3 linked regions of the Homo sapiens genome follow. The protein of the gene in region 3 purifies or fractionates together with the protein of the main gene of each other region. This does not show direct contact. Each region holds a gene or a part of one and is shown on either strand. Other genes may lie near its edges.

Region 1 (7,966 bases), on a different chromosome or scaffold from region 3:
CAGCCTCTTGTCCTGCCCCTCCAGAGGGGTGTTCCTAAAACACAAACCTGACCCTGTCCTTTCCCTACTCAGAACCTCCCAGGGCTCCCCAGAGCCCCACCCCCCACCGCCACCCCACCCCAGAAAGCCCTGGCTCCTTCCTACAGCCCTGCGCAATCTACTCCCTGCAAACTCATCATAACCTCCTCCAGCCTCCTACGCTGTGGCCCCACTTATGGCCTCCATGCCTGGCTCTGCTCACCTTTGGGCCTTTGCCACCTGTTTTTGTTTTTTTTTTCCCTGCCTGGAGTACCGTCCACCCTCTCTCCAGGCAGCCACTCTCACTTCCTCCCTGAAACACTTCTTGAATCTATTTCTGTCCCTCCAGCCTGGCTGGCGATCACCACCCCTCCTCACCTGTCCACTAATCTAGACTCCTTCCTGTCTTACCCTGGAGTCCAGTCTCTGCATGGCAGCCAGGGATCTTTTCTGAACACTAACTGAACCACAGCACCCCGCTCTTGAAACTTCCCATGGCATCGACCACCCCCAGGATGACACCCATATTCCCCAATCTGACTTCCAAGGTTCTACCTCTGGCCTCATCTCTCACTGGTCCTACCTCCCTCTCACGGCTCCCACCGGATCGAGCTTCTCCACACTTTGCTTCTGCTCCCGTTGGAGGCCAAGTCTCTTCCAGGGCTCCAGACCCTTCCCACCTCCGCCTTCTCCAGGGTTTTGCTGCTGCAAGTCCCCCCTCTCCTGTGCAGAATCAATTCTCCATCTCTATTGGACTCTACTCTCTTCCATCCTTACAAAAAATCCATCTTTCCCTGACACTGCATCTTCTCTCTTTTTTTTTTTCTTGAGACGGAGTCTGTTGCCCAGGCTGGAATGCAGTGGTGTGATCTTGGCTCACTGCAGCCTCTGCCTCCAAGGATCAAGCAATTCTCCTGCCTCAGCCTCCCAAGTAGCTGGGACTACAGGTGTGTGCCACCACACCCAACTAATTTTTTCAGCAGAGACGTCGTTTCACCATGTTGGCCAGGTTGGTCTCGAACTCCTGTGCACGTTCTCGTCTTACCACCCTCCCCCATTTCTCCACTCCCCTTCAGAACCAATACTCCTAACACTTAACATTTGCTGTCTCCACTTCCTCCCCTCCCATTCACTCTTCAGCACCTCCTGGCTGCATCACCCCCATCACTCCCCAATAACTGCTCCTGTCAACATCACTACCAGCATCCATGGAGCCAAAGCCAATGGCCAGTGCTTGCCTTGGCAGCATCGGACTAAAGGCACCAGCTCCTTGTTCTAGAAGCGCTCCCTTCTCTCAGCCTTCCCGACACCTTTCCTGGCTTCCTTTCCACCTCACTAAGTGCTCCTCCTTAGCCTCACCCTCTTCCATTTGGGTTCTGTCCTAAGTCCCCCCTCTAGACCCTCTTACTAGATGATCTCATCCATTCCCAACCATAGTTTGATCACACCCAAATTCTTCTCCAGTCCAGACTGGCCCATTTACTTAATGTGTCTTCTTGTAGGGCTGGGCGTGGTGGCTCATGCCTGTAATCCCAGCACTTTGAGAGGCCGAGATGGGCGGATCACCTGCGGTCAGAGGTTCGACACCAGCCTGGCCAACATGGCGAAACCCCATCTCTACTAAAAGTACAAAAATTATCTGGGCATGGTGGTGTGCGTCTATAATCCCAGCTACTCGGGAGGCTGAGGCAGGAGAATCGCTTGAACCAGGGAGGCGGAGGTTGCAGTGAGCCGAGATTGCGCCATTGCACTCTAGCCTGGGCAAAAAGAGCAAAACTCCCGTCTCAAAAAAAAAAAAAAAAAAAAAATTCCAAACTGGTCTTTGTAATGACTCACGGAGACCCTGCATGATCTGGCCTCTGTCCTAATCTCATCTTGTTATTGGTCTCCCCCTAAGTAGCCAAAGCCCCAGCCATGCCAGTACCCTTTCATTCCCCATCCCAGGGCCTTTGCACAGGCTGCTTTACCTCCCTGGAACACTCCTCTCCAGTTCTCCCTCTGTGAGTTTCAGCTTAAACGCCTCCTGCTCAGTAAGGCCTTCCCCCACTACCCTATCTAAAGTAGCCTCCAACCCTTATTCTCTACTTCATCACACTGCTGGTTTGCTTTCAAAGCACTCATCACAATTTAAGTATTTTACTTATTTACATGGTTTTTTTTTGTTTTTTTTTTTTTCATGTCTGGTTCACCTGCAAAATTACAAGCTAAGGACAGGGCCACATCTGTCTCATTCACTGCTATATCCCCAAAGTCAAGCACAGTCCTTGGCACATAACAGGTACTCAATAAATATTTGTTGAATTAATGAATGAATGGGTGCCCCACACTTGACTCTCAATATTCTAAGTGATACTATTCTTAAGGATCCCCACCCTTACTCCCAAGGCCCCCACCATCACATTCCTTTTCCTCGGGTCAGCCCAAATCTCCTACTTCCTTGTTCCCCCCATCTAATGATCCATTCCCCACCCCCACGATTGCCTTCTCTATTGGGGCTGTGCCCCCTCTACCCCCCACTTGGCGGCACCCACCCCAGGACTCCCCATTTGGTAGCGCCATCAATCACTCCCCCACCACATGTCACTGCCTGGTAGCGCCCTCTACAGGCCTCACGTTTGGTAGCGCCCTCATTCCAGTCCCCCTCTCGCCCCACAATTGGTGGCGCCCTCCTCAGTCTCTCCACTGAGTAGCACCCGCTCCGCACGCCACTCCTAGGTATCACTCTCCGAAGCCCCCTATGTCGCTCCTTGGCAGCGCCATCCTGGGCCTCCCCACGCCCGGTCACTTGGTAGTGTCTGCCCCGCGCCCAGGCTGCAGCTCCGCGTTGCTATGGTTCCGCGCGGGCCCGGCACCCCTCAGCCTGGGCCACTGTCCACCCTCCCTGCCAGGCGGGCGCACCTTTGAAGTAGTCATTGGCCTGAGTCTTGAGCTCCTCTGCCCGCTTCAGAGCTCCATCAGCCGGGGGTTCGTCCCGGGGGGGCTCAGCACACTCAGTCCTCTCGCCCTCCGCCATCGCCATGCCGCAAAGCGACCCCTACCCTGGCAACGGCCGCCAGCGGCACCCGGCCGAACCGTCGCGAAGGAGCGCCGGGTGGCCGCCGCCGCTGCCGCACAAGTGTCGTAAAGCGCGGGCCCTGAAGGCGCCCTTCACGCGCCTGCGCAGGTCCCTTTCGCCACAGAGCGCGCGGAGGACAAGGTGACCAGAGGTTCCCCAGACGGTACCCCTGGTAGAGAGAGCCAATAGGGAATGAGAGAAGGGGCGCGCGGGGAAACAGACCTGGTGTGGCCTCTCCTCCCAAAGTTACCGTGTTCCAAGGCTGTAAAAAGTTTCTCGGTTCTGAAAGTGGGATTTCCCCGCTGTCCTCTAGGGTTGGGGGGTGGGTTGTGAATGTCGCTGGCGGGTGTGGCTGTTTTGCAAGGCAGCGCCATGCCCTACGCGGAGCCGGACCCGGGCGTCGAGCCCTATTGTCGACTACCTGTGTGACCTTGAACAAATCTTCCCTTCCTCTCTAGGGTCTCAGTTACCCATCTCTGAAAAATTAGTGGTTTCTCAAGCCAAAAAGGGTCCAACCTTGAGGGTCAGTGTTTGAGTTTTTAACTGAAGGCACTCTGGATTTCAAGTCCTGAGCAAGGCTTAGAAGTGTGTTGCACCATCTCCTTTCTTCCTGTGTTCAGCTTCCCAAATCCTGAATCTTCAAATAAACTCTCCTGTTTGTGTTTTTACAGATTCTCTTGTCTGAGATCACAGCATTGATTGCATGCACTCTGCCTCCCTCCAGTTTACCCTTCACATTTTTTTTTTTTTTTTTTTTTTTTTGAGAGGGAGTCTCCCTCTGTCGCCCAGGCTGGAGTGCAGTGGCGCCATCTAGGCTCACTGCAACCTCCGCCTCCCGGTTTAAGCGATTCTTCTGCCTCAGCCTCCCAAGTAGCTGGGATTACAGGCGCCCGCCACCATGCCCGGCTAATTTTTGTATTTTAGTAGAAACGGGTTTCACCACGTTGGCCAGGCTGGCCTCGAACTGCCGACCTCAAGCTATCCGCCCGCCTCGGCCTCCCAAAGTGCTGGGATTACAGGCGTGAGCCACCGTGCCCGGCCGAGGGATCTTTCTAAGACATGATAAAACCATGGCACACTCTCGCTCCCAGGCTTCCATGGCCCCAGCACCCTTAGGAGAAAACCCAAACTCCTGATTAGGAGACCCTGAATAGTCTTAACCTCAGGCTGAATAGTCTAATATCCAGATTCCACCCCTTTGCCAATCCCCACCCGCCGTACACGCTTCCAGTCTGTCCTTTCTAAGCCCTCATGTAGCACTAAGTCCTGTAAGGCTCTGGATCCCCTCCTGGAAGCACACTCCTAAACCTATCTATCCCACTCCCAAACCTCTTGTTAGTCCAACCCCATCTCTCCTACTGGCCCCCAGCACAACCAACAATCACCCTAAAGGGCAGATATTAGTATCATCTCCATTTTACAGATAAAGACACAGACTTGCAGAGGTGTTTGACGAAGGTCACAACAACATAAGAAGGTGACAGAGCCAGGATCAGGAATCCCATCTAATTCCTATGTCCTTCATTGCCACTCTACTGCCTCTGTAGGTGCCAGAGCCCATCTTGGTGGGTTAGTAAATTTTTCTTTTGTTTGTTCGTATTGTTTGTTTTGGGGTTGGGGGAAAAGGAGCTGCCATAGTGGATTTGAATTCTGGTTTCGAGTCCAGCGGAATCCTTCCTGACACTGTGACCTTGGGCAAGTGATCACCCTCTTCTAAGCCTCAGTTTCAACCTCTGTAAAGTGGGGATAATAATTATCCCCATCATACAGGATTAGAGGAGAGTTCGACAACATGAGTACAGCATTTGTCAGGGAGCCTGACACAGAGTAGTACTTTTATATTCACTCCATCACAAATACTCAAAGTGGGCTGGGTATGGTAGCTCATGCCTGTAATCGAAGCACTTTGGGAGGCCAAAGCAGGCAGATCACTTGAGGTCAGAAGTTCAAGACCAGCCTGGCCAACATGGCAAAACCCCGTCACTACCAGAAATACAAAAATTTAGCTGGGCATGATGGTGCGCACCTATAGTCCCAGTTATTAGGGAGGTTGAGGCAGGAGAATTGCTTGAACCTAGGAGGCGGAGGCTGCAGTGAGCCGAGATCGCGCCACTGCACGACAGCCTGGGCTACAGAGTGAGACTCTGTCTCAAAAAACAAATAAAACAAAACAAATATTCAGAGTTGGGCAGAGTGCCTAGTGCTGTGATGGGAGGGGGCTTCCAAGGGGAGCTTTTAGGGGCACTTTACCCAATTGGAGCAGGCAGGGAAGGCTTCCTGGAGTAGCTGTTACCTAAACCAAGATGTGAAATATGAGTAGGAGGTAACCAAGTGAGGGGAGAGGGGAAGGGAGAGAGGCATTTCAGGCAGAAGAATAGGAAGTGCAAAGGCTTGAGAGTGTTTTTCTTCCCTTGAAGAGATTCCTATGTGCAACCCTGTATGGGGGGTTATGAGAGTGACGTACATGACAACAGACACACCCACCTGCACATGAGTCCATGGACACACACTCTTGCACACACATGCTCACTTAACTATGGGCAATCATGTCACACACACATTGGTACCCAGAATTATAGCATCAAGCAGTCCCACACATGTACACAGAATCACATCATACAGACATACATAGGCAAAAAAAAAAAAAAAAAATCACAGCACCTTCCACACTCAGAAACACAGAAACCCAAAATAACCAGAAACACACATAAGGCAGAATCACTTCACCCAGATACTAATATGCACTTGTAGAAGGAATCACAACCCCACCCACCTGCTGCAACACAGGTTCACAGAATGTGACAAAGACCCATACACATACACAGAATGACACTGTGCACACACTCGTGTGCATGCACACACACACACACATACAGATACACAGAATCAGAAAGTAACATGGGGCTGGTGCAGTGGCTCAAGCCTATAATCCTAGAACTTTGGGAGGCTGAGGCAGGAGGATCGCTTAAACCCAGGAGTTTGAGACCAGCCTGGGCAACATGGTAAGGCTCTGTCTCTACAAAAAAATGAAAATAATTAGCTGGGCCTCGTGTCATGCACCTGTAGTCCCAGCTACCGGGAAGGGTGAGATGGGAGGATTGCTTGAGCCCAGGAGGCTGCAGTGAGCCGTGATCACACCACTGCACTCCAGCTTGGGTGAGATAGTGAGACCCTGTCTCGAAAGAAAGAAAGGGCCTGGCATGGTGGCTCATGCCTGCAATCCCAGCACTTTGGGAGGCCGAGGCGGGCAGATTACCTGAGTTCAGGAGTTCGAGACCAGCCTGACCAATGTGGTGAAACCCCATCTCTATTAAAAACACAAAAATTAGCTGGGTGTGGTGGCACATGCCTGAAATCCCAGCTACTTGGGAGACGGAGGCAGGAGAATCGCTTGAACCTGGGTAGTGGAGGTTGCAGTGAGCAGAGATTGTGCCACTGCACTCCAGCCTGGGCAACAGAGTGAGACTCCAAGAAAAAAAAAAAAAGAAAAGAAAGAGAGAGAGCGGAAGGAAGGAAGGAAGGAAGGAAGGAAGGAAGGAAGGAAGGAAGGAAAAAAAAAAAGACACTCAGCCACCAGTGCACCCACACTCCCAGAGGAGATCCAAAAGATGAGTCAACACGCAGAGCTCTGGTGCCTACCAAGGTGAGGTCTTTATGGTGTATAGAGATTGGTGAGTTTCAGAGCCAGTGTGGCCAGTCTAGTCCCTCCCCTTTCCCTAGCCCAGCACAATTCCCTCCATTGAGGGCCCACATCACCTCCAGAGGGAGGAGGGAGGGGTCAGACCCCCCCATAGCACCAATCTGGATAGGCCACTCTCTGACAAAACAGAGCGAGCAGTGCCTTCCACAAACGGGGTAAATGGGGCTAAGAAGGGGGGAGGCCTTTTCCTGTGGGAGACCAAGAGTAGCACCATCTGTAGAAAGAAAGCTGGGGGGTAAGGGAGGCACATAGATGGTGGCAGACAGCTGAGGGGTCCTGGCTTCTCTCCCCACCTGGCAATATGCAGACAGCACCGTGCCTGTGCATGTGCCTGTGTGGCTGGAGAAGTCTTCAGATTGCAAACCACCCAAGGGGTGAGGGAGCCCCAGGTGCCCCAAACATGTGGGGTAAAGTCAAGGTAAGTGCATGTCTGGAGGGCTGGGGTGGGAAGTGGAGGGGGTTCTGGGGCACAGAGATTGTAGGCAATGAGAATGGAGAGGCATGAAGTCCAGGAGCAGCACAGCCTAGAGGGTAGGGGTTTAGAATGGGAAAACTTAAGACTGAAAGAAGGAATTGGGTAAGTTCAGTGGGGTGGGAAGCCCAGAATAGATTTAGGAGGCTGGGGTCTGGAATTAGGGAGTTGAGGTTATAAGATTCAGAACCAGAGGAATCTTTAGGGAAAAGTCTAGATTCCAGAATCAGAAGCATTTGGAGGCTGAATTATAGAATCAGAGGAATTTGGATCTGAAATCAAAGGCAGTTGGAAGCTGTGAGGCTTAGAAGCAGAGGAATTTATAGAATAAAGCATAGAATTAGAAAAAGCCTGGCTGGGCTCAGTGGCTCATGCCTGTAGTCCCAGCACTTTGGTGAGGCCAAGGAGGGAGAATTGCTTGAGCTCAGTAGTTCGCGACCAGCCTGGGCAACATGGTGAAACCCCGTCTCTATTTTTTTTTTTTTAACAAAAAAAAGGAAAAACAAAAGCCTAAAATCTGAGTTCTAGAACCAGAGAGATTTGGGAACCATAAGATCTAGAATCAGAAGGAGTTGAGGGTGGTAAGATCTAAAACCAGAGAAATGTATAAGGCAAAGTCTAAAATCAGAAGATATTTGAAGGCTGAATTCTAGACCCAGGGTAATTTGGAGTCAGATCTTGAGTGAGGAGGAGCTGGAAATGATGAAGTCTAGAGCCAAGG
Region 2 (7,102 bases), on a different chromosome or scaffold from region 3:
TTTTAGCTTAGCTTTTTATCATAGATTTTCCTGTTAGTAAGTATATTCTAAAAAGAGTTAACTAAGAATAAGGTGGATGTGAGCTAGGTGCTTGCTCAGTGCTCTCTCTTGGGTACGTTAAGTGGGGGATGTTTTTATGATGCCCCAGGGTTTGTCTGCTTTGAGAAGTGTACCTGCCTTGTACTTCTCACATTCATTATCATGGCTGTCATATGTCTGTCTTTTAAAAATAAACCAACCCCAGAACAGCAACAACAAAGTCCAAATCCTCTTTCTTGTGCAGACTAGTAGGTTAAGTTGAAAGAGAGAAGTGTTTCAGTACCATGCCTCTTATGTTACAGAATGCAGCAGTCCGGCGCCTGGCCCAGGAAAAGAGTGGGAAGAGTATGTGCAGATCCGGACTCTGGTTGAGAAAATACGGAAAAAGCAAAAAGGTAAAATTGCTAGAATGATAACTGTATTTTAATAATGTCATGTAGAAACTTGATTAGGTCAAAGGGTTGACGAGTAGTAAAGGTCTCAGCATCATTGGTGTCACTCTGAAAGGTCTTGTACTGGGGCTTGCAGACCGGGAGAGAGAGCAGTTAGCGGGATTTCTCCCCTTTCTGAGATGCTATTACCTGCTTCGGAAAGGGTGAGAATGTTGAGCTTTAGGAGAATAAAATGTTTGTATCTGGGTGCTAAAATGATACAATTTTATTTATTTACATTTTATAAAGTATTATACCGTTATTTCCTTTTGAGTTTCAGGACAGTGCATATAGTGTATATCGTCAATAACAAATAAATGCTGATTGGTTAATGCATTAGCAAGGTTTATAATGAACTCACACACATCTCAGTTAAATAAGAGGTGTGGTCATATTCCTTAAGCTGTGTTTTTACAGGACGTATGCAGTCGCCATTGTAATGATTCTCATCCAGGCTGGCGTGGGGCTAAGTGTGAGTTTGAAAAAGCTCATTCACTATACCTATTGTTTTTGTTCTGTAAAGCACAAAAAGTAAAGATTATTATGCAGGACCACATGGAAGGTAGAAGCAGAAAACATCCTAAGGAGCATGCATTGGAATGTGGGGCCCTTTCTTATTGTCATGAAGGGCCTCAGGAGAGGGTTTGTTTTTTATTTGCTCTCTTTAAGTAGTGGTTTTATTGCTCTTCCATACACATCTCTAAACATGTAGTCTTCAGTTTAGATGGTCTCAGACTCCAAAATGGTGAGTTCATAATGGGTGTTTTCAAACAGGTTCCTTCATAATGGGTTTATTTGCACTAAATAGGAGTCTGTGCTAATCCTTTGTCACCAAGTGGGTAGCGCCTTAGTTTCTCTTCTGCGTAGATACTGTTTACTATACCTGACACTGAGGGTAAAGCATTTGCCAGTTCTCAAGGAGTGAATAGGAAGTTCCGTCTTTGAATATTCCTCATTCTGGTCATTTTCGCCATTTAGCAGGTATCTTCGCATATCCAGCATGCCCTCTTCACATATCAGGTTGACTGTTAATTATGCTGTGGTAAGATGGCCACAGGCGCCTGAGCTATGTGCCACACCCAGCTTCCTCATAGTAAAGTTCCTGTTCCCCTCCTTTTATTCATCCAAACAGAATAGTTTTTTCTATGCATGTCTTTTCATCTTTTTGACTACATAGGACATGCTGAAAAGTTCAGAAATTAATATAACAGATGTCCAAGAATCTGCTACCCCAGCTGAGCACATGTCAAAGTTGTATTCTCATTGTCCTTTCTTTTATTCTCACCCACTGATCAGCTTTCCTTTCCCTTCCTCAGCCCTTGGTTTTGTTTTTGTATTTGTTTTTAAGAAATAAAACATCACAGATACAGCCAAAGCCTCACATTTTCATCCCCTTCCATTCCCTCCCTCCTTGCAGGGTGTTCATCTTCACTGTGAATGTTTTCTACTTCATAAATAACCCCATAAAAATATATGGTTGTAATTGATATTTGAAAAATTTACATAAATGGTGTCATATTACGTGATTTTTTAAAAGCCACTGTGGTACATTTAGTGTTATACTTATGTTGATACACATAGCTCTAGCTCATTTAAATTGCCTTACAGCCTTCTGGCTTACAGCTCTACAGTTTTGTGTTCTTAGAATCAGGGCTGTGGGGCTCATCCTTTCCCATGTCTCCTTGTGCACATACGCGAGCTACTCATTTTTGTTTTAATGGAAATTTTGTTAAAGCAAATGTGAACATGAGAGGTGGCATGTTTGACTTTTAAGGAGAAAACTGCTCTGTAAATCATAGTAGTGGTAATAGAAGCTCTCTGCCCTTTGCCATCGTATTACCTAATAGTACCTAATAGTCAATATTTATATTACCTAGTGTCAGTATATATTTCACTGTAACTGACAGGGAGTTTAGGATTTTAATTCTTCTTCCCTGTCACCAGTTAAGGTATGTACTGTGACCATCTGGTGATTAGTTTTGATTTCAAGATTGGCGTGTTAAGACTATTTCCAGTGTTAGTTATGGCCTGTTTTTATTTTCTGAGAGACGTGTGAATGATATGTGTCCTAAAAGTAGCTCTTGTTTTCTAAAACGTGGATTAATATAGGTCTGTCCGTTACTTTTGATGGAAAAAGAGAAGATTACTTTCCTGATCTAATGAAATGGGCCTCTGAAAATGGGGCTTCTGTCGAGGGTTTTGAAATGGTTAACTTCAAAGAAGAGGGCTTTGGTTTGAGAGCAACAAGAGATATCAAGGTGAGTTTATAAAATGTTGGTCTCAAGGGGTCTATGTGTTTGAACTGTGGTGTGCTGTAGAGGGCGCAGGGTGAAGAGGTAGACGTGTGGTGGGGGAGTTCTAGTTCTGAGCCTGTGGGCAGATAGGCAGCCTGGAAGGGCCTTGGGCTCATGTTCTAAGCAGCTCCTCCCACCTTATCCTCCTGGGGAGCCAAGTTGCTAATCAGTGACTGGGGCAAGTCAGTTCACATTTCTGAGCCTCTGTTAGGAGACCATAGAACATGCCTCACAGGATTTTGAGATTTACCTAAAGATAAGGAGGTGGACTCATGGTTTGGATTTTGTAACTTACTGGAGGTGAGTGGGTGGAGGACTGGCGGTGTGGGTATGCCTACTAGTGTCTGAAATGGATGACTATGAGGCTGAAGGTACTAGGAGCTCACTGAAATGGCAATACCAGTGGCAATAGGGAGAGGAGAGAGAAACAGCCACCTACTAAGGAAGAAGGGCTTTTTCTCCCCTCTTGGTTCTTGGTTCTTCTTTCCACATGAAGGGAGCAGCAGTCACTGGCCATGCCTGGCCTCTTCTCACCCCTCACTCATGTCTCTTCTAAGAGGAGGCACTCCTTCATCTGTTGGCCAAGTTTGGGAGAAGGAACTGGACTTGGCCTTTTTCTCGATGGGAGCTAGTTGCCCGTATGCATTCATTCCACTCTGCTCTCTGCCCTGGAAGCTTTGCAGGGGCAGGCCACATGTGGGGAGGGCGGTGGGGATCCAGCTCTGCCTGTAACTAGGTGGGGGAGTCTGTCTAATTCTGGGATTCAGTAGGTGATATTTTGGGTGACCATCTGTTGTATTCTATCTCTCTCTCAGTTGCTTCAGAACTTGGGTGGAGGAAGGGGTGTTATTTGGGCCCCCTCAAACCTCCAGCAACATTTTTGGCTAAGTTGTAGTTAACCTTTCATTGATAGATTGATAAATCACATGCTGGTATATTAGATACCTGTTAAATGTCTACTGTGTGAATGGTAGTATCTTGCTTCCAAAAAAACCAGTCTCTTCCTTCATGATGCTTATAATCTATATAGTAAGGGACAAGACAGGTACAAATAACTTAATAGTTGACATTGGTGAAAGCAAGATGCCACATGTTCTTCTCTTGTGACAGATTCAAGGCAGTATTTGTGTGGATGCTGCCCAGAAGATCCGAGCTGTGGACTTTCCTCACTATGTGCTTTTGTGGGGAGGCGAGGGTTGGGGAGGAGGTCTTAAACAACAGACATTTATTTCTCACAATTTGGAGGCTGAATGTCCAAGATCTCAGGGTGCTGGCATGGTCTGTTTAGGTGAAGACATTCTTGGTTTGCAGACAGCTGCCCTCTTGCTGTCTCCCACATGTTGGAGCGCCATGTGCATGTTTTTTGCAGTGTAGATACACAGGACACAGCAAAAGGAAGCAGCCTGTATTGCCAAAAAATGAGAAAAAGCTTTGGGAAACAAATTTCTAAACCAATGTGTCTTCTGGGCATGTGATTTCACTAGTAACTGTTGTGCTTTAAAGATAAGTATGTAGAGGAAGGAATGTTACTCTGGCTTCAAAACTCAGTAGTAGTAGTAATTCACATCGACAGATTAGGGTTTTTGTTGGAGGCAGGAATTTTGTTTTGATTTGGTCTGGTTTTAGAACTTAAAAGTACAGTAAAGTATACAGTAAACGCCTTTATGCTCTACTCCAAATGTTATATTTGCTTCAGGTTAAAGTTGAAAGTCCCTTTTTTGATTATTTGCTTCTCAGCATATGTAGTTTTTAGTTTTTCTGTTGGAAACAGGATTTTAAGCTATACTTCTACTCATTTAACTATAAGATAAATGCTTACATTTTAAAATGTATTTGAATATTTATTTGAAGTGCTGATATGCAGCCTTAAGTTGTACTTCATGTGTGATTGGATTTCTGACCGTAGATATGGTTGGATTGAAGACTGTACCGTGTTTTGATGATTCTCCTATTATTATTTTTTTCCCTAGGCAGAAGAATTGTTTTTATGGGTTCCACGAAAATTGCTAATGACTGTTGAATCTGCTAAAAATTCAGTGTTGGGTGAGAATAATTTCTGACTCTTCAAGGCAAAGCACAAATGACAAAAATATGTAAAATTCCATTTTATGGCACTAAGGATAATACTTGGTTTTTCTCGACTGGCGAAATATTCCCTCAAATATGCATTAAGTGTTTTTCATTTAATGTTATAAAAAAGATGCACATGACCTTTATTTATTATTATTATTATTTTTGAGATAGGGTCTCGCTTTGTCACCTAGGCTGGAGTACACTGGCACCATCATAGCTCACTACAGCCTTGATCTCCCAGGCTCAAATGATTCTCCCACAGGTGTGCACCACTACATCTGGCTAATTTTTTTTTTTTTTTTTTTTTTGTAGTGATGGGGTTTTGCTATATTGCCCAGGCTGGTCTCAAAGTCCTGAGCTCAAGCAATCCTCCCACCTTGACCTCCCAAAGTGCTAGGATTACAGGTGTGAGCCACTGCGCCCAGCCTGTACCTGACTTTAAATGTTACAAGACCTTTTAGTTTTTCTGTAATTTGTAAACGTATATTTAAATGAAGTTTTTAAGAAGTTTGTGGAACTTACGCTGTTAACTTCTGGGTTAATTCAGGGCCCTTATATTCTCAAGACCGAATCCTTCAAGCCATGGGAAACATCGCACTGGCCTTTCATTTGCTGTGTGAGCGAGCCAGCCCTAACTCCTTCTGGCAGCCCTATATTCAAACCCTCCCCAGTGAATATGACACTCCTCTCTACTTTGAAGAAGATGAAGTTCGGTATCTTCAGTCCACACAAGCTATACATGATGTCTTCAGCCAGTATAAAAACACAGCTCGACAGTACGCCTACTTCTATAAAGTCATCCAGGTGAGCAGCTGTTTGCAATTTAAGTATATATTTCACAGAGTGGGGAGGAAAGAGGAATTGAGTCCATAAATATTCCATTTGATGTCTTATTAAGGATACTTAAACATTTTACTTTTTAAATTGAAAATATAAAATACATTTCATCGTTTGTTTTTACAGAAATATCAATGAAATGCGGTTACATATATATATCTGATTTCATCAGTGCCCAGTGTTAATACAAGCAGCAGTTGTTCCTGAGTTATTGAAATCACCAAGTTTTTTTGTAAACAAAAGATCACAATGAAATTTTAAAAGCCTTAAAGCATATCTAATGCAATAAGTTACTCTGTGTATAAATTTTTCAAGAAAATGAGGGTTAATTTTTTTCTATATATGTTAGTGTAAAATATTGACAGTTAATTTAGCAAATTATAACATTTATGTTTTTCAACGTGTACTGTGTATTAATTTTAATTTGTTCTCAGTGAAAGTTTCTCATAGAAATCTCTATAAGGCTCCAAGTATTTGAATTACCTGTGATGACACCTTTCTGTATTTTGGTGGTGTGGCCACCGTTATCTTTCATTTGCAGTTGAACAGCAGTCAGAAGGAACAGGGCCAGTACCACAGTCCCCACCAGGACTGAGAGGCAGTGTGGCTCCTTCTCCTGATTCTGCACAATCTGAATCACTCAAGAGTCAGCTCCTGGGCTGCTGTTCTTGAGATACGACAAGTGGGCAGGTGAACTACTTGCTCGCTTTCCTTGTCTTTGGTTGGTGTGACAACCTGAATTAGGTTTGATTTGGTTGTTCCTTAAATGGTCTATCCTTGCTATGTTTTATTTGCAAGAAGTGGTAACCTCATTTCATTGCTACAGGTGATATTGCTTTCCGTTTATTATTTTCACTTTGTAGCATGCTTACTACACAAGAATGTTACACTCAGTTACATCTCCTCCTCCAGCAAGCACTTCAAATATGTCAAAAATTATACATGACTGTTGTCTTCATGTGGAAATCAATCACTCGGTTTTTCTAAACTTTAGGAAGTCATTAGGAATGGTCATACAGTATGTATATAGCTTTTATTTCAAGTTGGCTTAATTTAAAAACTATTGATGAAGCCAAATCAAAACTTTGCTTCTTCATATAGTGTGCACCTGCAGTCCTGCAGTCTAAGGTTGGTTTGGCTCTTCATGACCTGGAAGGGTTATACTTTTATTCTTAGTTCTCAATGGTATATCTTTCATGACTAAAGGTTAAGCTGACTTTAGTAGGTCTAAGTATTTGTCATTTTCTCTTGCTGGACAATGAACTACAAGCTGGCCCTTTTTACTAATGTGCTTCTAGTTTGCAAACGCTGGTAGCCTGCTCTGAGAGGACTCTCTTCTGTTGGCAGGTTGGAGGGTCTAGGATGATGGCAGGTCTTCTGATAACCGACTTGGCGTGAATGAGCTTTGGCTGTTTCTTTGTATTAACT
Region 3 (7,876 bases):
AGAATTGGGTAGTAATAAGGTCTGACTAAACTATAAGCTCCTTATCTACAGAAATATTATTAAAGGGGCATCAATGAAGCCACCAAGCAATGGCAATACTGACTCTGCCATTTACTTATTATGATTACTGCCCTATTCCTCTGAGAAATTCATTTCTACAGTTAAGATAGCTTAGGATCGGCCAGGTGTGGTGGCTCACACCTGTAATCCCGATACTTTGGGCGGCCCAGGTGGGTGGATCACGAGGTCAGGATCACGAGGTCAGGAGATCAAGACCATCCTGCCCAACATGGTGGAACGCCATCTCTACTAAAATACACACAAAAAAATTAGCCCGGCATGGTGGTGCACACCTGTAATCCCAGCTACTCAGAAGGCTGAGGCAGGGGAATCGCTGGAACCTGGGAGGTGAAGATTACAGTGAGCCGAGATCGTGCCACTGCACTCCAGCCTGGTGACAGAGAGAGACTCCGTCTCAAAAAAAAAAAAAAAAAAAAAAAAAAAGAAACTGCTATTATCATATTGTATGTTCAGCTATTTCTTTTGTGTATGTTTTGTGAAGTAGCCATTATCTACAATAAAGTATTTGCTACCTTCAGGGCTTGAAATTTGCATGAATCTTGATGAATTATTTTTACATCTCTTATATATTGTACTATTATATAAATATTCCCATTGTGCCTACTAATTACTTCATGTTTATTATATCCCCAGGCTTTTACATTTATTGTTTCAAATCCTCACAAAAACGCTGCAAGGCAGGAGGCTCAGAGAGGTTGAACAATCTGCCCACACTCACAGAGCTAGGAAGTGGCCACGGGGCCATTAGAACTCCAGAGGCCATGATTCCTCTCTAACCTCATGGCTGAACAGAGTCCTAAGAGGGCTCAGGCACCGGGGCCACACTCTGACTGCCAGATACAGCGTGGTGGCAAGCGTCAGCAGAAGGACAGTCTCTGATTCTCTGGCAGGGCATCCCAAGGTTGAACTTGGAAAATATTTTTTAGGAAGATTGTTAGGTTATGTGAATTATTAATATTTATAACTGCACATAATATCCAATTTCAGGTAGAAAAGGCTTTTCTTGACCTGACCCAGGAATAAATCACCTTACGGATTTTGAAATAAGGGTCAAAGTTCCAAACAGCAGACTTACAAACAAGTTTTTGGAACAAAAGTCAGTTGTAGGTTGGGCACTGGCTATTCTGAAGCAAAGTTTTTACACGAATCCTTTTACCTACTGACACTGAGCTACAGCTGCATTTCAGGATTAACTAATACCACTGCTTGTTTTCCCAGATTATATGTCATATCAACTTGCAGCTGCATTTATAAAACGGCCGTACAAAATCCAGAAAAACCTGTTTCTTCAGAGATATTTTAGGAAGAATGATCTGCAATGCAACTAGATGGATGGGGCCTTCCTCAACCATTAAATAACCTATCAGAACTATACTGGTAGGCCGAGAGCGGTGGCTCACGCCTGTAATCCCAGCACTTTGGGAGGCTGAGGCAGGTGGATCATTTGAGGTCAAGAGTTCGAGATCAGCTTGGCCAACATGGTGAAACCCCATCTCTACTAAAAACACAAAAATTAGCCGGGCATGGTGGCAGGTACCTGTAATCCCAGCTACTCGGGAGGCTGAGGCCACGAGAATCGCTTAAACCTGGGAGGCAGAGGTTGCAGTGAGCGAGATCACAACACTGCACTCCAGCATGGGCAAAAGAGCGAGAGTCAGTCTCAAAAAAAAAAAGAACTATATTGGTACAATCACAGTAACTTATTTCGATGCCTTTCTGCAGACAGGAAACTGGAAAAAATAATCATTTTCACTGTTAATTTATACAGCTGTAGCCATTAACATGTTTTTCCATCTATCAAAATAGCCCTGACCATCTTATAATAATTCTAAAATTAAAGGAGCTAGTCAATTGCAATATGAAATTTTAAAAGCTGGTCAGATTTGCCCTCTTTTCTCCTTCTAAATCAAGTTTTCAAACTAAAAGTTTCTATGTTGGATCAAGTACAGTTCTAAACGCTGTGTACCTATCTAGTACTGACTTTATGAAAGTAGCCCATCAACAGTCAACTGCGCACATGCACTGTGTACGTTCGTTGTATACGTGTGTTTGCATGTGTGTAGGGATGTATGTAGAGAATAAAGTAAAACAAGCTTCATGCCGCTCTATCCACATTTCTGCCCAGTATCTCTTGGGACCAAGAGTATCCATTTTCAAGACAGAAGGTCAGAAATTAATCCAGTTTTTTTGTTATTGTTTTACCTGAAATGGGGGGACAGGTGGGAGGACAAAAGAGAATAAAGCAGATTCCTGGGCATCTCCACACATGTAGATCAGATCCTCTGGGAGTGAGGCCCAGGATTCTGAATTTTCAGTTCCCAACGTGATTCTTTTGCACATTAAGGTACGAGATCAGCAAGCAAAGAGAAGACTTAGGGCTCTCGGGACCCGTGATTAAAGCCTTAGCGGTACTCAGGCTCAGGCTGATTTCTGACATAAGAGAAAGAAGAGATTATTGTCCTTATGCCCTTAGTGTGGACTCTGGACAGAGCAATGGACTAATGAGGGCGTTGGGATTCTAGTCCGTGCTCCGTCACGGGTGAGTCCATACTACAGGCAAATGTATCTCCCTGGGTCTCTCTGGTCTGCACACTGAAGGGGCTGCACTCTATAGCCCAAGCCTCCACGGCTCCAGACTCCTTGAACTGAGGCTGACCGAGGCGCATGCACGATCGAGGGGCTCGAGCACCAAGCGCGGCTGGCCCCCAGGATCGGGGTCTCGCGGCACAAAGGGCGACAGGGCAGCCAGGCCGCGCCCACGCCCCGTGCCCGCGCGCCGGGAACTCCTGCTGTCGGCACGCGCCCCTCCCGCCGCCCCTCGAGCGCGCCGATGCTGGGGATCCCCGGGGCGAGGTGGCCGCCATTACCCGAACGCGGCCGCGGGTCCGGCCCGTGGGACGTGGATCCCGGGCTTCAGCGCTGAGAGAAGCAGCCGCAGGCGCAACACGCCCCGGCCGCCCAGCACAGCCACCATGGTCACAGGTCGCGTAGCTGCCGGGAGTGCGCATGCGCTAAGACCAAGCGCGGTACCCGGCCCACTCTGCCCCGAAGCCACGCCCTCTGCTCCGCCCACCTCGCCTCTCCATCCTGCTCCGCCCTCTGCCCGCCCCGCCCCGAAGCCACGCCCTGCCGGGTGCTTTCCCATGGGCGACCGAAACTCGGCTCGTGGTTTCGCAGTCCTGGAACCGCCGGCACCCGCGTAGACCGTCCCCTCTCGGTGCTGGCTCTGGCTCCCGGGATGAGTGTCCCCGTCGGCGCTGCCCCGCCCTCGCTCGTCGCCTCAGCGACCATGGCCTTTCCAGGAGGCGAGGCCGCCAGCCATAGCGCCCTCGCTGCGTCGGCGTCCAGGCGGGACTCCGGAGTGGGCGGGGCTCCGGCTCTAGGCAGGCTGCTATGTTGGATCAAGTAAAGTTCTAAACGCTGTGCACCTATTTAGTACTGACTAGTACTAGGAAGTGTATTTGCTTTTCGGAGATGATGGGATCTAAATTTTGTTTATACCACTTCACGCCCATTAGGATGGCTACTAGCAAAACCCCCAGAAATTAGTGTTGGTGAAGATGTAGAGAAATTGAAGCCCTTGTATATTGCTGTTGGGAATGTAAAATGGTGCAGCCATGTGATGAACAATACTGCGGTTCCTCAACAAATCAGTTATATGATCCAGCATTTTCTTTTCTGGGTATATAACCCAAAAGAATTTAAAACAGGGTGTACAAGAAGAAATGTTTTTACACTCACGTTGACAGCGGCACTATTCACAATAGCCAAAAGGGTGGAGGCAATTTAAGTGTCCAAAAACAGATACATGGATAAGCAAAATGTTGTCTGTGCATGCAAGGGAACATTTTTTAGCCTGAACAAAGAACGAAATTCTGACACTTGCTACTACATGGATGAACCTGGAGGACACTATGCTGAGGGAGGTAAGCCAGTCAAAAAAAGACAAATACTGTGTGATTCCACTTATATAATAAGGTACCTAGAGGAGTCAAACTTATAGGGACAGAAAATAGAATGGGGGTTGTTGAGGGCTGGTGGAAGGGGGAATGGAAAGTTGGTGTTTCATGGGGACAGAGTTTCAGTTTGGAGAGATGAAAAAGTCCTGGGGATGGATTTTGGTGATGCCTGCATTACATTGTGAGTGTACTTACTGCCACTGAACTACACACCTAAAAGTGGTTTAAGTGGTAAGTTTTATGTATGTTTTACCACAATTAATTTTTTTTCTTTTGGCTGTATAATTGCAGCTTTATAAAGGTTATAGACATTATCTAATTGAAAGCTCAGTGGAGAAAAAAAACAACTATTGCTTTTTAAGTCAATCGTTCTGCCTTAATTGGAAATAACTGGCAGATTTGTGGCTACTGTTGTAGCCTTGGCTTGAATAATTGGAGACAACAGCTTCTTTGCATATTGCATTTCTTCTCCTCCAAGAGACCTTTTTGGTGTAACAGTCAGTCCTGTGAGCACAGTGCTTGTAGGTGTTACACTCATAGAAATTTCTGTCACCTGCAGTGTCCTCACTGGCCCATTGGACTTTCTTGAGTAGTAAAGGCAGTTTTGGCCTAAATACAGACTATGCAAAAGTTTTCATATTCTACTCTCAACATAAATCTATCACATTAATTCCTGCATAAAAGGAAAGAGACATATATAATGTTTGAGTTTAATATCGTTTGACTTTCAGAAATCTTTGGTGAGGTCAGTATTTCCTTTTTTCCTGATATGTTGATTGGGGTTTCATCTCAGAAATGATAAAAATAGCTGTCTGTACAGTTTCAACACCAGTTACCCTTGTGCTAATAAAAAACGGTAGCACTGAGTTTTAGGTTATTGGTGTCACAATTTTTTTTTTTTGAGACGGAGTTTTGGTCTTGTTGCCCAGGCTGGAGTGCAATGGCGCAATCTCAGCTCACTGTAACCTCTGCCTCGCAGGTTCAAGCAATTCTCCTGCCTCAGCCTCCTGAGTAGCTGAGATTACAAGCACCCGCCACCATGCCCGGCTAATTTTTGTAATTTTAGTAGAGACGAGGTTTTGCCATGTTGGCCAGGCTGGTCTCAAACTCCTGACCTCAGGTGATCCACCCGCCTCAGCCTCCTAAAGTGCTAGGATTACAGGTGTGTGCCACCGCGTCCAGCGTGGTGTCACTATTTTTAAGTAACATACCTGACAACCAGTTCTTTATATATAGCAAGATCGTACAGTTTAAAAAAACTGCCATTTTTGTGCCAGGCACCTTATGATATATCATATTTCTTTAATCTTCACATTAGCCTTCTGTGCTATTGCACTCTCCATTTATAGATGAGGCAACTGAGGCTAAGAAAGGTTAGGAAGCAAGCCCTAGGTAACACAGCTGAAAAGTAATTTTGAGCTGCTCAATTTCAGGACTCTATACTTGCATAATGACGGCGAAAGGTTAGGAAGCAAGGCCTGGGTAACACAGCTGAGAAGGGGCAGGGGGGAGTTTTGAGCTCTCAATTTCAGGACTCTATACTTGATGATGATGATGATGATTGCTATTATTATTGAGGCACGGTGTGATCACAGCTCCCCACAGCCTCAAACTCCTGGGCTCAAGTGATCCTCCCACCTTAGCCTGCCAAGAAGCTAGGACTACAGGCATACACCACCACACCTGGCTAATATTTTTTAATGTTTTTGTGGAGATAGGGTCTTGCTGTGTTGTCCACACTGGTCTCGAACTCATGGCCTCAAGCGATCCTCCCAGCTTGGCCTCCCAAAGTGCTGGGATTACAGGCATGAGCCACTATACCTGGTCGTATACTTGGATTATTGCATATTGTAAAAATCACTGTAGTAGCATTAACCTTTCAGTGATTTCTCTGAAATCAGCTGCTTCTAAAATCTTGAATATTTACACTATTTATGCCTTTATTATAATTAGAAAACCCTTTCCCTTTCATAAATACCACACATTAAAATGTACATCAAAATACTGCCTAAAATATTTTGTGATTTATTAAACATTTTATTCCTGAAACCCTAACCTCACGTGACAGACCCAAAGCAAAGATGATGATTGTAGCAACAAGTAGAAAATCTACCAAGCAGGACTGTGGGAGCTGGAAGGAGGTCTCCGTTACCAGCAATAACCTAGGGTGTGAGTATTTGTTTCCGAACCAAGTGCGGACAGTCTCGGTTCTGCTTTGCTGGTCTGTGTCGTCATTGGCTCTGCCCATTAACAGCAGTGTTCTTGTGGAGCTTGGGCCTTGTACCTAACTCCTCACAGGCAAACTTGGTTCTTCTCACCATGGTGCTGAGAGAGTGGGGGTGAAGGGAAGGCCCCAGAGCCAGGCGCGGGGACAGCAGTGCTGCAGGCCTCTCATCCTGAGCGCCAAAATGCACTGGCAGGGAGGTGTTCTTACCATCAGCATCCCGTCTCCTGCTTGGCAGCGGGAGGGTAAAAGGGGATTATGCTCAGGAAATGCGGCCTCAGTGGCAGAGGCACCATGGAGAATCCGCATCTGTCCCAGTGACACATCACATCAATAGCCTAAAGTTGTGGTATAAATTTTTATTTTAAAAAGTGTTAAAAAATGCCTTGCCCTCTTGCCTTTGAACATTAATTATTCAACCTCTTTGGAATCTAAGAGATTTGATAACACCATTTGGATGGTGGTACAAGGAGCAAACAGAACTCACCCAGGCCCCTCCAGCAAAGCCTGGAGCCTCCCTCCATTCTCCCTTTTGGGCTGTAGGAGCCAAGGCTGCGTGGTGGCCAAGTAGTAACCGGACAGGTGCAGACAGGAGAGCCGAGGCTCATTACTTTACAGCAGTGCTCTTCTCAACCGGGGCAATTTTCCCCTTTCCTTGGACCATTTGACAATGTTTAGAGACTATTGTCACAACTGGGGCGGGGGGCTGGGGAGAACAGTGCCCCTGGCATCTAGTAGGTGGGGGCAGGGATGCTACTAAACATCCTACAAGGAACAGGACAGTCCCCACAACAGAATTACCCAGGCCGAGATGCCGACAGTGGCAAGGCTGAGACAGCCTGCTCTGCAGCCCCATTTCAGGGGTGTGTATGTGTCTGCTAGAGTTGAGGGGATTCACAATCAGAATCAACAACACTGTTATCAGCCCAAGACACCAGAATCTGTTCCGACAGCCAGATTGACCATCACCACACCCTTCTCGCCCTCCCTCTGGGGAGAGCTAAGCACACAGCCTTCCTTGTCGGTTTAGCAAAATGCCAGTGGACACTGAGCGGCCTACCCAGCTTCAGTCTTCTATTCTAGTTCTTTCATCCACCCCCAGGTTTCAGGTGGGCTTTGAAAGGCTGGGTGCTAGAGGCACAATTACCACACTCAGAAGCTGTCCTTTTTCACTCTGGCACACAGAAAAAATATGAAAATACTTTCACAGTACACAGAGTAAACCGAGGAAGCCACTCAACAGTATCAGCCCTGAGGTTCTGGTCTCACCCAGGGGTAGAGATCAGCATTTCCTGTTCCCTCTCCAGGGCACTCAGGCTGGGTGAAGGTACCAGAATGCCAGGAAATAACTTTAAAAGTCAATCAAGAATTTTTGTTGTAGTCACGGTTAGTACCAATTCCTTGCAACAACTGCCTGGGAAATTCTGATGTTTCCCCCCTCCTTGGTACCCCTTTAAATCCATTCAGTTAATTTGAAGACTCAATATAAATTCAATTCATTAAAAAATAATCGATAATTTAATGGGCTGAAGACTGCACGTGGTTCTTAGAGCCTACAGTGGCTGACAGAGTATTGGGTATTAACGTTAACGGATCCTGTGATGTGGCGGTG

The links.
Region 1: the proteins of BPHL (region 3) and PPP5C purify together in Homo sapiens (affinity purification with mass spectrometry; 2 studies listed by BioGRID and IntAct, with this or other methods). This does not show direct contact.
Region 2: the proteins of BPHL (region 3) and SETD3 purify together in Homo sapiens (affinity purification with mass spectrometry; 2 studies listed by BioGRID and IntAct, with this or other methods). This does not show direct contact.

What each region holds. Positions count from the first base shown.
Region 1 is NC_000019.10:46,342,168-46,350,133, reverse strand, and holds the start of PPP5C (serine/threonine-protein phosphatase 5), read right to left. Parts: upstream 3,048-7,966; 5' UTR 3,038-3,047; coding exon 2,917-3,037; intron 1-2,916. UniProt on the Homo sapiens protein: Serine/threonine-protein phosphatase that dephosphorylates a myriad of proteins involved in different signaling pathways including the kinases CSNK1E, ASK1/MAP3K5, PRKDC and RAF1, the nuclear receptors NR3C1, PPARG, ESR1 and ESR2, SMAD proteins and TAU/MAPT.
Region 2 is NC_000014.9:99,456,818-99,463,919, reverse strand, and holds part of SETD3 (actin-histidine N-methyltransferase), read left to right. Parts: intron 1-341; coding exon 342-434; intron 435-2,579; coding exon 2,580-2,728; intron 2,729-4,734; coding exon 4,735-4,807; intron 4,808-5,384; coding exon 5,385-5,641; intron 5,642-7,102. UniProt on the Homo sapiens protein: Protein-histidine N-methyltransferase that specifically mediates 3-methylhistidine (tele-methylhistidine) methylation of actin at 'His-73'. Histidine methylation of actin is required for smooth muscle contraction of the laboring uterus during delivery.
Region 3 is NC_000006.12:3,113,920-3,121,795, reverse strand, and holds the start of BPHL (serine hydrolase BPHL isoform 1 precursor), read right to left. Parts: upstream 3,056-7,876; coding exon 2,949-3,055; intron 2,512-2,948; exon of another isoform or gene 2,340-2,511; coding exon of another isoform or gene 2,284-2,339; intron 1-2,283. UniProt on the Homo sapiens protein: Specific alpha-amino acid ester serine hydrolase that prefers small, hydrophobic, and aromatic side chains and does not have a stringent requirement for the leaving group other than preferring a primary alcohol.